Linked DNA regions of Homo sapiens. The protein of the gene in region 1 purifies or fractionates together with the protein of each later gene. This does not show direct contact. Each region holds a gene or a part of one and is shown in the gene's direction. Other genes may lie near its edges.

Region 1 (3,609 bases):
TATCAAAGTATTGGAATTATGGGCATGAGCCACAACACATGGCCCCTTTCTCTGCTTCTTCATCTGCACTTCTTTAAATTTTATTTATTCATGGTGGCCACATGCCCCATCCTAGATGAGGAATCATGGCATCCTCATTCCTCTTGGCCATATGTGAATCCTCAAAGTCCTCAATCCCTTATCCATTATTCTAAAATCTAAAAGGCTCTAAAGATGAAAATGTTCTGTCCTAAATTTGAGGCTAACTCATTTGGCAGAAAAACTTGGCATGGCCTGGTGTGAGGCTCTTTATGGTCTTTTATTTATCCCACATTAATATTCATACATTTTGCATCAGGCTATTTATGCATTAGACTGCAGAGTGCTGCCCCCAACCTCCTTGGTGGTTTAACATAATATACAGAATTTGCACCTTCCATAATCTGAAACATTCTGAGTTCTGAAACATACCTGGGCCCCAGGTCTTGGATAAGGAATTGTGAAGCCCAGCTCTCTTTTTCAGCCATAGCTGATAGAAAGGGAGGTTGTGTGACCCAGAACCAAACAGTGGAATGTAAGGGGAAATCTTCTTGAGCTTCTAGAGAAAGATCTTGCTCTTAAAATAAAAAGGTAAAGCCCCTACAGAAAGTGGCCTTGCCCCACTCCTTCCTTCCTGCTCAGGGTCTGGGCTGAGGATGTGGCACCTTCTACCTTGTGACCATGAGGAGACAAGATCGAAAGATTAGCTGAGAATGGTGGGGGAAAAAGGGAAACTTTATGAGCCCCCAAAAGAACTCTGGAATCATAAACCATGCTTCTAGTTAAGTAAATACTGAACTTCCTTATTTTTAATCCAGGATTAATTAGTCTTTCTGTGACTTTCCTCCAAATGAGATTGGCCAGGGACAATAAAATGGTGTCTGAACAGGTGACAAGTAGGGCCCTCCCTCAGCCAACAGAGATAAGAAAGAGCATACACTTGGGTTTGGGATAGATGATGGGTGGATTAATTTGTTTGTTAACTGCAAAGTAACCTCTTCCTGATGAAGGATCAAACAAGAAGCCTATAATACCGGCAGACCACAGAAGGCCCAGGTGCTAGCCTTATCGGGTTGCCAAGAAGAAAGGAGAAGGAGAACAAAAAGGCAGGAGGACTCCCTTGGCAGAGATCCAGAGCAAAGGCAGCTGTTGCTTCTCATGAACACTCCAAAGTTTATCACAGTCACCTGTTACCCTAGCTGGCACAGGTCTTTGAAAGTGTGCTGGGAGTGTGTTTACATGTTTGTGTGTGCTTGTATGTTAAAGGTGCCCAGGTTAATACCAGGTGTATTAAAACGCCCTTGCCTGGCTAGTCCTTGTAGACCTTCTCTGAATGTTTTGGTGAATAAATCTGTTCTTCAGCAACCCTACCTGCTTCTCCAAACTGCCTAAAGAGATCCAGTACTGATGACGCTGTTCTTCCATCTTTACTCCCTGGAAACTAACCACGTTGTCTTCTTTCCTTCACCACCACCCAGGAGCTCAGAGATCTAAGCTGCTTTCCATCTTTTCTCCCAGCCCCAGGACACTGACTCTGTACAGGATGGGGCCGTCCTCTTGCCTCCTTCTCATCCTAATCCCCCTTCTCCAGCTGATCAACCCGGGGAGTACTCAGTGTTCCTTAGACTCCGTTATGGATAAGAAGATCAAGGATGTTCTCAACAGTCTAGGTAACTGACTGGGGTAGGGGAAGCGGGGGGTTGACCCTTGCTCATTTCTCCTGTTCTTAAACTCTAGCTTTGTCTCTATCCCATCCCAAGATCCCAACCAAGCCCAACCCCTGATGAGGGCTTTCTACACTACCCTACCCGTGTTTGAAGTCTTGGCTAAAAGCTGAGGTTTTCCTGATGAGGAGGAAGAGGTGGAGGAGAATGGTAGCTGTAATTTATGAACACTCATTATGAACCAGGTATAATCCAAGTTTTACGTAGATTATTTCATTTAATTCCCACAACCATTTTATGAGGTAAGGACAACTATTACTTCTGCTTTAAAAATGAGGAAACTAACCTTAAAAGCTGATGAGTAGGCTGATTCTGGACACAGTGTCACCTCCAAGGTAGAAGACAATTTGGAAGGGGATAAGGGGATTATGGGGAGGATAGCTCATGGGATGTACCCTTTCTTCTTTCCTACTCAGAGTACAGTCCCTCTCCTATAAGCAAGAAGCTCTCGTGTGCTAGTGTCAAAAGCCAAGGCAGACCGTCCTCCTGCCCTGCTGGTGAGTAACTCCCTGAGAGGGAATGGCGACTACGATGCCCTGTATCCTCCCCTGTCCATCTCCCTGCACCTACGTCTTCCCCCATGTCAGGTCTGTATCACCCTGGCACCCTGGGGCTGAGTCATGACTCTTGGTTCCCAGAGACCCCTTGCCCATTCTTGTTTCCCTGAAGGATGCTACTGGGGGATCTTGGGCTTCTGCCTCTTCCTTTCACCCCTTCACTTCATGCCCCTGTTTCTCAGCCCTTCCTCTCCTCCATTGTCCCATAATGATCACATACTTCATTTCTCTTTCCAATCTATTCCTCTGTTTTGATGGGTAGGGGCCAACAGAGAGGTGAATTTATCACAAATCGAAGAAAACTGAAACTCCCAAGTTCCAAGTCTCTCACTTGCATGAGTCTCTTTCATGGCAGCAAATATTTGTTTCTGTGATTTCTGTATTTCTTTTCTTGAAATGAGCTCGCAAAATTGAATGAGCTTGAGGCCCCACGAAACCTAGCTCTACCCCTGACTGCACAGGGTTGAAAGATGGTTGTGGGTAGCCCTTCCTCCTCTTAAATTCCAAGAGCTCTGATGTCTGTGCTTCATGTGCTCATGCAGGGATGGCTGTCACTGGCTGTGCTTGTGGCTATGGCTGTGGTTCGTGGGATGTTCAGCTGGAAACCACCTGCCACTGCCAGTGCAGTGTGGTGGACTGGACCACTGCCCGCTGCTGCCACCTGACCTGACAGGGAGGAGGCTGAGAACTCAGTTTTGTGACCATGACAGTAATGAAACCAGGGTCCCAACCAAGAAATCTAACTCAAACGTCCCACTTCATTTGTTCCATTCCTGATTCTTGGGTAATAAAGACAAACTTTGTACCTCTCTGTGCTTATGTCATCTCTGTTATTGTCCCCAGCTTGGGGCTCCCCTATCCAGAAAATGTTGTCAGTGTCCCAGTGGTGACATCTCAGTTTGGGAAGTGGGATGGGAAGTTAGGAAAGATATGGGAAGAATGGGAAAAACAAACTGACACTCCAAACCCCCACTTCCCTCATTTTTATTTATTTATTTATTTATTTTTTTCTTTTTTTTCATTTTTTTTTTTTTTATTATACTCTAAGTTTTAGGGTACATGTGCACATTGTGCAGGTTAGTTACATATGTATACATGTGCCATGCTGGTGCGCTGCACCCACTAACGTGTCATCTAGCATTAGGTATATCTCCCAATGCTATCCCTCCCCCATCCCCCGACCCCACCACAGTCCCCAGAGTGTGATATTCCCCTTCCTGTGTCCACGTGATCTCATTGTTCAATTCCCACCTATGAGTGAGAATATGCGGTGTTTGGTTTTTTGTTCTTGCGATAGTTTACTGAGAATG
Region 2 (3,500 bases), on another chromosome or scaffold:
GACAGTGACACAGTTGGAATGGAGGTGCTGTCCTGGCTTTAGAGGGGGAGATTGCCAAGAAGGTCCCAAAGACCCCGTGAAGACCCTCCGCCCCACGCCGGCTCGGCCTCGAAACAGCTTGAAGAAAGCCACAGGTAACTTCTTATTTGTGCTATTATGTATGGCCACCTTTAATATTTCCGGTGCTCCTTCAAACAACAGGATTTGTGCTTTACAATGGTGAGCTTTGAATGGCCTTCGAATAACACACATAGATACCTGCAGTAGCCACATGTGACAAATTTATTCTCAGGAGCAGTAGCAATTGTAAGACAAACTTCCTTGCAAGTAAATTGCTTTGCTAGGGCCAGCTTGTTGTGAAAGCCAATGCCTTAAACATCAGGGTAGGAAATGCCAGTGGGTTCAGACTTGTGTCACCTGGAGGCACAGCTGTGAAGAGATTCAGATGTAATGATGTACTGTTTGTTTTTACTTGGGCCCATACATCTGAATTTAGGGGGGTTAAAATTGTTTTTTATTTTTTATTTTTTTGAGATGGAGTCTCGCTCTGTCGCCCAGGCTGGAGTGCAGTGGCGCAATCTCGGTTCACTGCAACCTCTGCCTACCTGGTTCAAGCAATTCTCCTGCCTTGGCCTCCGAGTAGCTGGGATTACAGGCGCCTGCCACCATGCCCGGCTGATTTTTGTACTTTTGGTAGAGATGGGGTTTCACCATGTTGGCCAGGCTGGTCTCCAACTCCTGACCTCAAGTGATCTGCCCACCTCGGCCTCCCAAAGTGCTGGGATTACAGGCGTGAGCCACTGTGCCTGGCCATCACTTCATCTTTTTAAGTTCAGTCACAATAAATGCAGCCTAGGTTTTCTTATGAAATTAGATGCTTAAATGATTATATTTTGCCATGAGGTGTTCTCAGGTTTGAAACTCGTAGTTCTTCCCAACATTGTCTGTAAAAATAGATTTTAAAATGACTTTTTAACTACAAAAGTAATGCACATCAATTAAAGAATGTTTGAAAAATATTTAAGGATACATAATCTCATGACTAAATGAGAACTACTGTTGACATTTTGTTATAGAACCTTACTCTCTTTCCTATGTCTGTACATTGATTTTGTTAAAGAAAAATTCATTTATCTCACAAATATTTATTGAACTTCTATATCTGTCAGGCTCTATACTGGGTACTTGGAATAAGTGAGAAAAAAGGCAGACAGAGTCCCTGACTTCATGGAAGGCAGACATTAGAGAGTAATTACAATAATTCATGACAGATACTGGGATGGAGGGAACATGACATGGGGGCTGGTGGATTGTAATCATTTATTTTTGTTTTGTTTCATTTTAGTTTTTGTTTGACAGAAGTTTAAGCATATTGTAGTTTAATAAGTTGAATAGCTTTATAAGGACTAATAGGAAAAACAATGACCACCCTGAAACCCTTTTTCTCATTTTCCCTTCCCATGGGTAGTACTTTAAACTCTTCAGATGAATCTTTTGGAATTTACCTCCATATCTATTGGTTTTTCATTATGGAAGGTGAGAATTTAACTCCCTTTCATCCACTCCTCAACACATGGCTCCTATCCCCCCATCCCTTCCATACAGTTAGACCATATTCTTTATTTACTCAGTATTCAGTGTTTACATTGTAGTAACTATGTAGATAATGTTTACAGCTGAGCCATGTGGTGTACTATGAATAGATTTTCTTTCCTACGCAGCTTTTTGATTCCTTACAGTTAAATCATTGTCTTATGTTTTTCCTTTGCTTAGTTTTCTCTCTTTTTATTGCTATTTCAACCCAACTCTTCTCTGGCTCTCTAAATGTCCCCTCCATATGTTCAGACACAGCATTTTCATCTTCTTGAAGAAGTCTCCCTTGAGCCTTCTCACTTGCCCTACCTGGACGGGACATCCTCTTTTCCTGTCTTCACCCGAGGATCTTAACTTGCCCCTCTCCTGTTGAATTCCCTGTTTCCTGTGTCCCCTGCTCCCTCTTTCTTGGCTTAGCCCCTTGCTTTGCTTGAGCATGTCCTTTAGTAGCTTCATGAGACAATTACATGGGAAGCAAACTTTTTACCACTTTATAGTATGAACACTATTTTTTATTCTAGCTTCAGAAATCTAGGTCAGAAATCACTTTCCTTCAGAATTTTGACAATAGTGCTCAGTTTTTCTCTAGCTTCCAATATTGCTGCTAAAAAAACACCAAAACTTTTCTGACTCCCAGTTTTTTGTGTGTGACTTGAGTAGGTTTTTTTGTCTCCCTCCTCCTTTTATTTTGTCCTTTTAGTGGGATTTTAGGAAGGAGTAAAAAGAAATGCTTTTCCTCTGATATAGTTTGAATGTTTGTCCCCTCCAAATCTCATGTTGCAATGTGATCTTCAATGTGGGAGATGGGGTATCATGGGAGGTGTTTGGGTCATGGAGGTTGATCCTTCATGAATGGCTTGGTACCCTCCTTGCGGTAATAAATGAGTTCTTGCTCTGTTAGTACACGAGAGCTGGTTGGTTGGAAGAGCCTGGCACCTTCTCCCTTCCCTCTTGCTCCCTCTCGCTCCCTCTCTTACCATGTGACACACTGGCCCTCTTTTCACCTTCCGTCATGAGTAGAAGCTTCCTGAGGTCCTGACCAGAAGCAGTTGCTGACACCATGTTTCTTGTACAGCCTACAAAACTGTGAGCCAAATAAACCTCTTTTCTTCACAAATTACCCAGTCTCAGATATTCCTTTATTTCAATACAGAATGGACAAACATACCCTGAATTCACTGTCATTATAAAAAAAATACTATTTTTACAACTTTTTCTATTTTAGAGACAGGGTCTTGCTCTGTAACCCAGGCTGGAGTGTAGTGGCATGATTACTGCTCACAACCTTGGACTCCTGGACTCAAGTGATCCTCCCACCTCAGCATCCCAAAGTGCTGGGGTTACAGGCAGAACCACTGCACTCGACCTGGAACTTATTTTTTATTGAATAACCTATAATGGACAACCTTCCATGTCATGAAATATTCTACAATACTACTTAATGGCTTGAGAGAATGTGAGTTATTGAACACCATCCTCTACTGTTGGTCACTTAGGTTGTTTGTAATTTTTCACTATTATAGATAATATATGAATATGCATCTTTTCCTGTTAAATTTTTGCACTCATTTCTGATTATTCACTAGAATAAATTTCTTGAAGTGTAATTGTAGGGTCAAAAGATTCTGAGTATTTTGATACATGTTGCCAAATTATCCTTTGAAAAAAATGCAATTTGCACAGTCACCGTGGTATATGAGCAAAGCATTTCCTTACATCCTCAATCTTCCCCCCTTTGCCGCCCTTTGTTTTTATTTCCTTTGCTTAGAATAGCATTCCACTTGCACATGATTCAGTAACTTGTTTTTTTCTTTAGTGTCTTAAGAGAGAATAACGGCCGGGCGCGGTGGCTCACGTCTGTAATCCCAGCACTTTGGGAGGCCGAGGCGGGTGGATCACAAGGTCAG
Region 3 (3,500 bases), on another chromosome or scaffold:
ACCCATGTGACATTTTGTCCTCACTGGTGGCTAGAACCTATTGTGTCCAGAATTGGTGGGTTCTTGGTCTCACTGACTTCAAGAATGAGGCTGCGGACCCTCGTGGTGAGTGTTACAGCTCTTAAGGTGGCGCATCTGGAGTCTGTCCCTTCTGATGTTCAGATGTGTTCGGAGTTTCTTCCTTCTGGTGGGTTCGTGGTCTCGCTGGCTCAGCAGTGAAGCTGCAGACCTTCGCGTGAGTGTTACAGCTCTTAAGGCAGCGCGTCTGGAGTTGTTCGTTCCTCCCAGTGGGCTCGTGGTCTCGCTGGGCTCAGGAGTGAAGCTACAGATCTTCGCGGTGAGTGTTACAGCTCATAAAAGCGGCGTGGACCCAAAGAGTGAGCAGTAGCAAGATTTATTGCAAAGAGCGAAAGAACGGAGCTTCCACAGTGTGGAAGGGGACCCAGGCAGATTGCCACTGCTGGCTCCGGCAGCCTGCTTTTATTCTCTTATCTGGCCCCACCCACATCCTGCTGATTGGTAGAGCGGAGTGGCCTGTTTTGACAGGGTGCTGATTGGTGCATTTACAATCCCTGAGCTAGATACAAAGGTTCTCCACTTCCCCATCAGATTAGTTAGTTACAGAGTTTTGACACACAGGTTCTCCAAGGCCCCACCAGAGCAGCTAGATACAGAGTGTCGATTGGTGCATTCGCAAACCTTGAGCTAAACACAGGGTGCTGATTGGTGTGTTTACAAACCTTGAGCTAGATACAGTGTCAAATGGTGTATTCACAATCCCTGAGCTAGACATAAAGGTTCTCCAAGGCCCCACCAGAGCAGCTAGATACAGTGTCGATTGGTGCAGTCACAAACCTTGAACTAAACACAGGGTGCTGATTGGTGTGTTTACAATCCCTGAGCTAGACATAAAGGTTCTCCGAGGCCCCACCAGAGCAGCTACATACAGAGTGTCAATTGGTGCACTCACAAACCTTGAGCTAAACACAGGATGCTGATTGGTGTGTTTACAATCCCTGAGCTAGACATAAAGACTCCACGTCCCCACCAGACTCAGGAGCCCAGCTGGCTTCACTTAGTGGATCCCGCACAGGGGCTGCAGGTGGAGCCGTCTGCCAGTCCCGCGCCATGCGCTCGCACTCCTCAGCCCTTGGGTGGTCGATGGGACTGGGAGCCATAGAGCAGGGGGTGGTGCTCGTCGGGGAGGCTCGGGCTGCACAGGAGCCCATGGAGTGGGTGGGAGGCTCAGGCATGGCGGGCTGCAGTCCCGAGGCCTGCCCTGCGGGAAGGCAGCTAAGGCCCGGTGAGAAATCGAGCGCAGCGCCGGTGGGCTGGTACTGCTGGTACCTCCGCAGCCGCTGGCCCGGGTGCTAAGCCCCTCACTGCCCGGGGCCGCAAGGGCCGGCCGGCCTCTGCGAGTGTGGGGCCAGCCAAGCCCACGCCCATCCGGAACTCCAGCTGGCCCGCAAGCACCGCAGGCAGCCCCGGTTCCCATTCGCGCCTCTCCCTCCACACCTCCCTGCAAGCTGAGGGAGCCGGCACTGGCCTTGGCCAGCTCAGAAAGGGGCTCCCACAGTGCAGCAGCGGGCCGAAGGGCTCCTCAAGTGCCGCCAAAGTGGGAGCCTACGCAGAGGAGGCGCGGAGAGCGAGCGAGGGCTGTGAGGACTGCCAGCACGCTGTCACGACTGCCAGCACGCTGTCACCTCTCAATATTCCCATTGATGCTGGTCTTGGATCAGCTCAACGGTTACTGCATGTATCAACATTAAGGATTTTGAGGATTAAAATTTCTCTTTGTTATCTTTAGTGTTTTCTGCTATTAGAATATAAACCTATTTCACATGGTTTTGGTTTGTTTTGCAGGTGTTTTATTCTTCCCAATGACTCTATCCATTGTGAGAGAGAACTGTACCAATCGGCCAGAGCGTGGAAGGACCATAAGGCATACATTGACAAAGAGGTTAGCCATGGCTATGTGACTGTCAGATATATTCCAAACTCAAACTCGGCCTGCCAGCCCTGCTGTGTCTGGTGGGACATACCACAGATACACATCATCTATAATTATGTGAAAAAATACAAAAAAAAAAAGTTATTTGTCTTTCTCCAGTGATTTAATGATAGTCCTACTGAAAACAATATAGAGTATGAGAAGAGACTGGGAACTGACTCAATGGTCTTTTGAAATCTCTGTGAGAAAATGATTCAGTTATAAAAGAGGAATCTGCTAATGTTTATCTATAACACATGGGTTGGAATATAGAGTCTATATAGACATATTCTATGCCCAGTTTGTTTCTATGTTAAGTATCATCTCAGATGAATAGCTGTTATTACAGAACAGAGAAAACAAGGTGAAAAGAAAAGTACTTTGTAAAGAAAATCCTGATCTTAATACGTAAGTGCTTGAAAACATGTTTTCCAGATTGAAGCTCTGCAAGATAAAATTAAGAATTTAAGAGAAGTGAGAGGACATCTGAAGAGAAGGAAGCCTGAGGAATGTAGCTGCAGTAAACAAAGGTGAGCTTGTTTCCATCCATGCTCCACTTTCCAAATTCATTTCCGCACAAGCCAGAGGCATTAGCACTGGGCTCATTTTTCTCTCTTACCTATAGAATGTATTGTCATAGAGTACGATAACCTAAGCTATTTAAGTAAAACTAAATATGCTTAAACTTAAGCAGAAAGTAAAAAGTCACATTCAGCTAAAATACTTACAACATCACTGCCTTCCTTCTTTCTATTTTGCTTTCTTTTTATAAAATGAACACTTTGATCCAATGCAAGGCTATGAAGTCTCACTTTTTAATCTTCTCTCCTGCAGCTATTACAATAAAGAGAAAGGTGTAAAAAAGCAAGAGAAATTAAAGAGCCATCTTCACCCATTCAAGTAAGTAACTCTCTGTTTTCCACATTTGCTGGGAGTCAATGACTGTCCACCTGGCCCTTCGAAGAGGCTGGAGGGACCCCTGTGTTTCCTGCAGTGCCGCTTCAGAAGAAGTAGATCCATCTAGGAGGGCACCTAGCTCATGAAGTTGAAAGCAAAGCCCCACCTCACCAAGGGACCGTGGCAATGCTCTTGGCATCCTTTGTTGGGGAGGCTTGCTGAACTCCACTGTCATTCTGTGGGTGCTCCCTACCTGGCAGATGGGACCAGTAACTAGATTTTACTCCATGCACTGCTTTCTGTGGAGAGTGCTTGAGGGTTACAGACTCTCTCGATGCAGTTGGTGTTCTACAGAGCAGCCTGGAATAGTGCTGAATTCTGAAAGTGGGAAGAAATATAAATTTTTTTAAATAATAGCAAAATTTGCATGTGAAGGAGATTTAGTATTTAAACTTCAACAAAGTTTAAGCCTTTTATATATAAAAAACAAAATAATAAAAAATAATTCTAAAAAATAAAGGCTATCTAAACTTGTTTAGTAGAATTTGTCAAAGAATTTTTTAAACTTTTTAATCCAAGCCATCTGATTCAACTAACCTTTAACTCGATGGCT
Region 4 (3,500 bases), on another chromosome or scaffold:
TTTCAGGTTTCCCTTAGTTCATGGCCAGGTAATAATAATCTTAGATGTCTTCATTTACATTTGACAGAGAGTTTTGTTTTTATCATGAACATATAATAAGTTATGTAACAAGGAATAATTGTTTAATTTACACATATTTTACTCAGAATGTGTTTATTCATCATGCACTTGATACATTAATTCCTTGTAAGTACATTAACCCAATGTGAGAAAATCAAACTTCTAAATTTTAAAATGATACATAAAATGGAGAACTTTTGAAGTGCAGTTTATTATATGTATTTCAGATAATGTGAATGAAATGGATAGCCATGCAAAAAGTACTAGTAATATTTTTGTGAAATTAAATATAATTAAACAATGCCATCTTATTGGCTTGAATGACATCAGCTAGTCAGCTTCAAATAGTTTCATATTTCACTAGGTTTTCATGCATCTTCATTTATTAAATAAATATATTTTTCAAAGGACAATTGCTTATTTTTCTTTTTACTTTTAAAAAGAAGAGATTTTCTGGGTAATATTAATTTCTTCATGTGATTTTGACAAATATTATCAAATATTATTTTATATTACTGATAAAATGAAACAACTTGTTTTTTGATGAGCTGAACATATGTGACATTTATAGTGAATTTATAAGACCCTGACAGAGTGCTGAGAGAGTGTGGCAGCATTGGAGTTCTGACAAGCTACAGCAGGAAGAACCAAAACAGAGGTGTTAAGGCCATGCTCTCTCAACAAAGCATCCAAGAAAACAAAACCTCTGTGCCTTTGTCAGACAGGGCTCTCCAGAGAAACAGAACCAATAGGATGTCTGTGTGCCTGTGTGTGTGTGTGTGTGTGTGTGTGTGTGTGTGTGTGTGTGTGTGTGTGTGTGTAGAGAGAGAGAGAGTTTTAAGGAATTGGCTTACCTGATTGTAAGGACTGGCAAGTCCTAGGTAAGAGGTGATATTGCAGCTGGAGTCCAGAGGTTGTCTGGAGGCAAAATTCCTTCTTTCCTAGAGAACTTCAGTTTTCTTTCTTTCTCTTACAGCCTTCAACTGATTGGATGAGGCTCACCCACGTTATAGAGTTTAACCTGCTTTACTCAATGTTTACTGATTTAATATTGATTACCTCTAAAAAATACCTGCACTGCAACATCAAGACTAGTGTTTGACCAAAAGCTGTTTACCATGGCCTAGCCAAGTTGACACATTGCAGTGCCCATTAGCAGTACCATTAGCCGAGGGTTGAGAAAAATATTACATGTCAGCTCATTTAAAATACATTTATTACATGTCTAAAGCAGTATTTAATAAGTATGATATGTGTTTCTGTATCTTTACAGACAAAATCTTTAGTAAAGTAGGTACATGTGTAAGAATCAAGAGAAGCCAAAGCTACTGGGAATGAACAAAGGTATTTAAATTGAGTGACACTGATATTTAATATAAGAATGACCTTAAAATAAATAATTTATGTAGTGAAATACAGCTTCTTTCCTGATTGTTTTTAATCAAACAGAATGAGAAGAAATGGGCTGCTCTAAAGATAAGAGCCATTGGGAGTAGATTAATAAAAGCATTTCTAGATGATGAAGTTTGAGAAAATGTTAGAAAATTCTAACGGTGGGTATTACATATATCAACTCATGATGCCACCAGAAAATATATTATTGTCAGTTGTTTCCTTCAATGAATGGCTTAGAAATACAATGTGTGTCTATGTGTGTGTGGTGTGGCATATTGATGCACACATTTTCAATGTGCTACTGTATGACATATTTATATTTAGAATTGCTTTCTAATATCTTCTTTCCTAGAATCTGAGGTGGTTTATTTTGATGGACAAAGTGCTCTGCTGTATAGACTTGATAAAAAACCTTTAAAACCAATAAGAGACGTTATTTCTTTGAAATTTAAAGCCATGCAGAGCAATGGAATTCTACTTCACAGAGAAGGACAACATGGAAATCACATTACTCTGGAATTAATTAAAGGAAAGCTTGTCTTTTTTCTTAATTCAGGTAAAAAAATACTTGAACTTTTATACCAGTAGTTAAAAAAAATCTGTTTACATTTGTTGGTACTCAGTCTTTTCACAGTTAGATAAAATGACCATATAATTCATCATCTAAACCAGAACACCTTTAAGAAATAAAAAATACACAAGTGATAGTTACTCTGGGACAGTAAGTGCAAAGTAGAACTGCAATGAACAAATGTAAATGAAAATTTAAGAGCATTACTACCAGATGCATGCAATACATACATATCCTAAGTATGATTTCTGTAAACAGCATATATTTTGACAAACTGTGCAAGATCACCATATGTGTGTATAATATATATGTAATATATGATTATCCATATCATAAAGACAATACATCATTATAAAATTATGAGATAATGCTGATAATGAGGTTCTAAGAAAGAAAATATTTGCATTGTAAATCCAAATGTCATGAGTAATAGAAAAAATACTAAGAAAAATTTCAACAAAGTGTAGAATTGAACTTAAAAAAAATAAAAACAGGGTAAGGTTATTGTGTTCAAGATAGGGAGAAAGTGAGAAAACAACTCTGTAAGATGGAAAGTTGGATGCAAACTGTGATGCTCAACTAAAAAAGGGAAGCTGTGATTTTGAACAGAAATAACTGTTTTTTTCCTTCTCCTTTAAGGCAATGCTAAGCTGCCTTCCACTATTGCTCCTGTGACCCTCACCCTGGGCAGCCTGCTGGACGACCAGCACTGGCATTCCGTCCTCATCGAGCTCCTCGACACGCAGGTCAACTTCACCGTGGACAAACACACTCATCATTTCCAAGCAAAGGGAGATTCCAGTTACTTGGATCTTAATTTTGAGGTTATTATAGATATATAGTTTAAATTAAATATAACCTGAAAAATAAGGTAGCTGCATAGAGAAATGCCATTTTATAGTAATTCATAACTAAGTTGACTAATAGTAATAGGTATGGTATGTCTGTCCCGGTACTATGAAACTGTTTATGCCTTCTAATAGGTCAGTTTATTATAATAGATCATCTTTTCCACCTTGGAAAGAAGTAAACAGTCAGTGTTAGGTTTAGGAAATCCACAAATGCAGAAATACCAAAGTAGCAAGCATTGTTATTAAATGTACTCATTTGAATATATTTCATTTGAAATTTCATCTGGTATATTACACTTGTTGTTTGACTATGCAGATTCCTGGGGGATTTTTTTTCTTGTCTTGGTGCAATCCTAACCAACATAGCATTATTTAGGATCACTTTGAGAAGTTAACAAGATATACACCAATAGATTTATTAAATAACAAGAAAAGTCAGATGCTCACATATAAATAATATCCTGATATTTTTTAAGTCATTAATGCTTTTTGCAACCCATTGCCCATATGTATCTAAGCTACACTGTTAAATAGCATCTATTCTTTCAGTCCTTTACAGGACACCTTAAAGTGTATGAAGGATCATAACAAACCAGAAAAACTGTGATATTTACTGGCGTAAG

What was found.
Region 2: the proteins of RETNLB (region 1) and EMILIN2 purify together in Homo sapiens (affinity purification with mass spectrometry; one large-scale study listed by BioGRID and IntAct). This does not show direct contact.
Region 3: the proteins of RETNLB (region 1) and SULF1 purify together in Homo sapiens (affinity purification with mass spectrometry; one large-scale study listed by BioGRID and IntAct). This does not show direct contact.
Region 4: the proteins of RETNLB (region 1) and CNTNAP3 purify together in Homo sapiens (affinity purification with mass spectrometry; one large-scale study listed by BioGRID and IntAct). This does not show direct contact.

Annotation. Positions count from the first base shown.
Region 1 is NC_000003.12:108,755,138-108,758,746, reverse strand, and holds RETNLB (resistin-like beta isoform 1 precursor), read left to right. Parts: upstream 1-1,336; 5' UTR 1,337-1,561; coding exon 1,562-1,688; intron 1,689-2,158; coding exon 2,159-2,239; intron 2,240-2,841; coding exon 2,842-2,969; 3' UTR 2,970-3,109; downstream 3,110-3,609. UniProt on the Homo sapiens protein: Probable hormone.
Region 2 is NC_000018.10:2,885,006-2,888,505, forward strand, and holds part of EMILIN2 (EMILIN-2 precursor), read left to right. Parts: coding exon 1-134; intron 135-3,500. UniProt on the Homo sapiens protein: May be responsible for anchoring smooth muscle cells to elastic fibers, and may be involved not only in the formation of the elastic fiber, but also in the processes that regulate vessel assembly. Has cell adhesive capacity.
Region 3 is NC_000008.11:69,625,347-69,628,846, forward strand, and holds part of SULF1 (extracellular sulfatase Sulf-1 isoform 1 precursor), read left to right. Parts: intron 1-1,863; coding exon 1,864-1,960; intron 1,961-2,425; coding exon 2,426-2,520; intron 2,521-2,824; coding exon 2,825-2,890; intron 2,891-3,500. UniProt on the Homo sapiens protein: Exhibits arylsulfatase activity and highly specific endoglucosamine-6-sulfatase activity. It can remove sulfate from the C-6 position of glucosamine within specific subregions of intact heparin.
Region 4 is NC_000009.12:39,176,668-39,180,167, reverse strand, and holds part of CNTNAP3 (contactin-associated protein-like 3 isoform 1 precursor), read left to right. Parts: intron 1-1,807; coding exon 1,808-2,011; intron 2,012-2,665; coding exon 2,666-2,850; intron 2,851-3,500.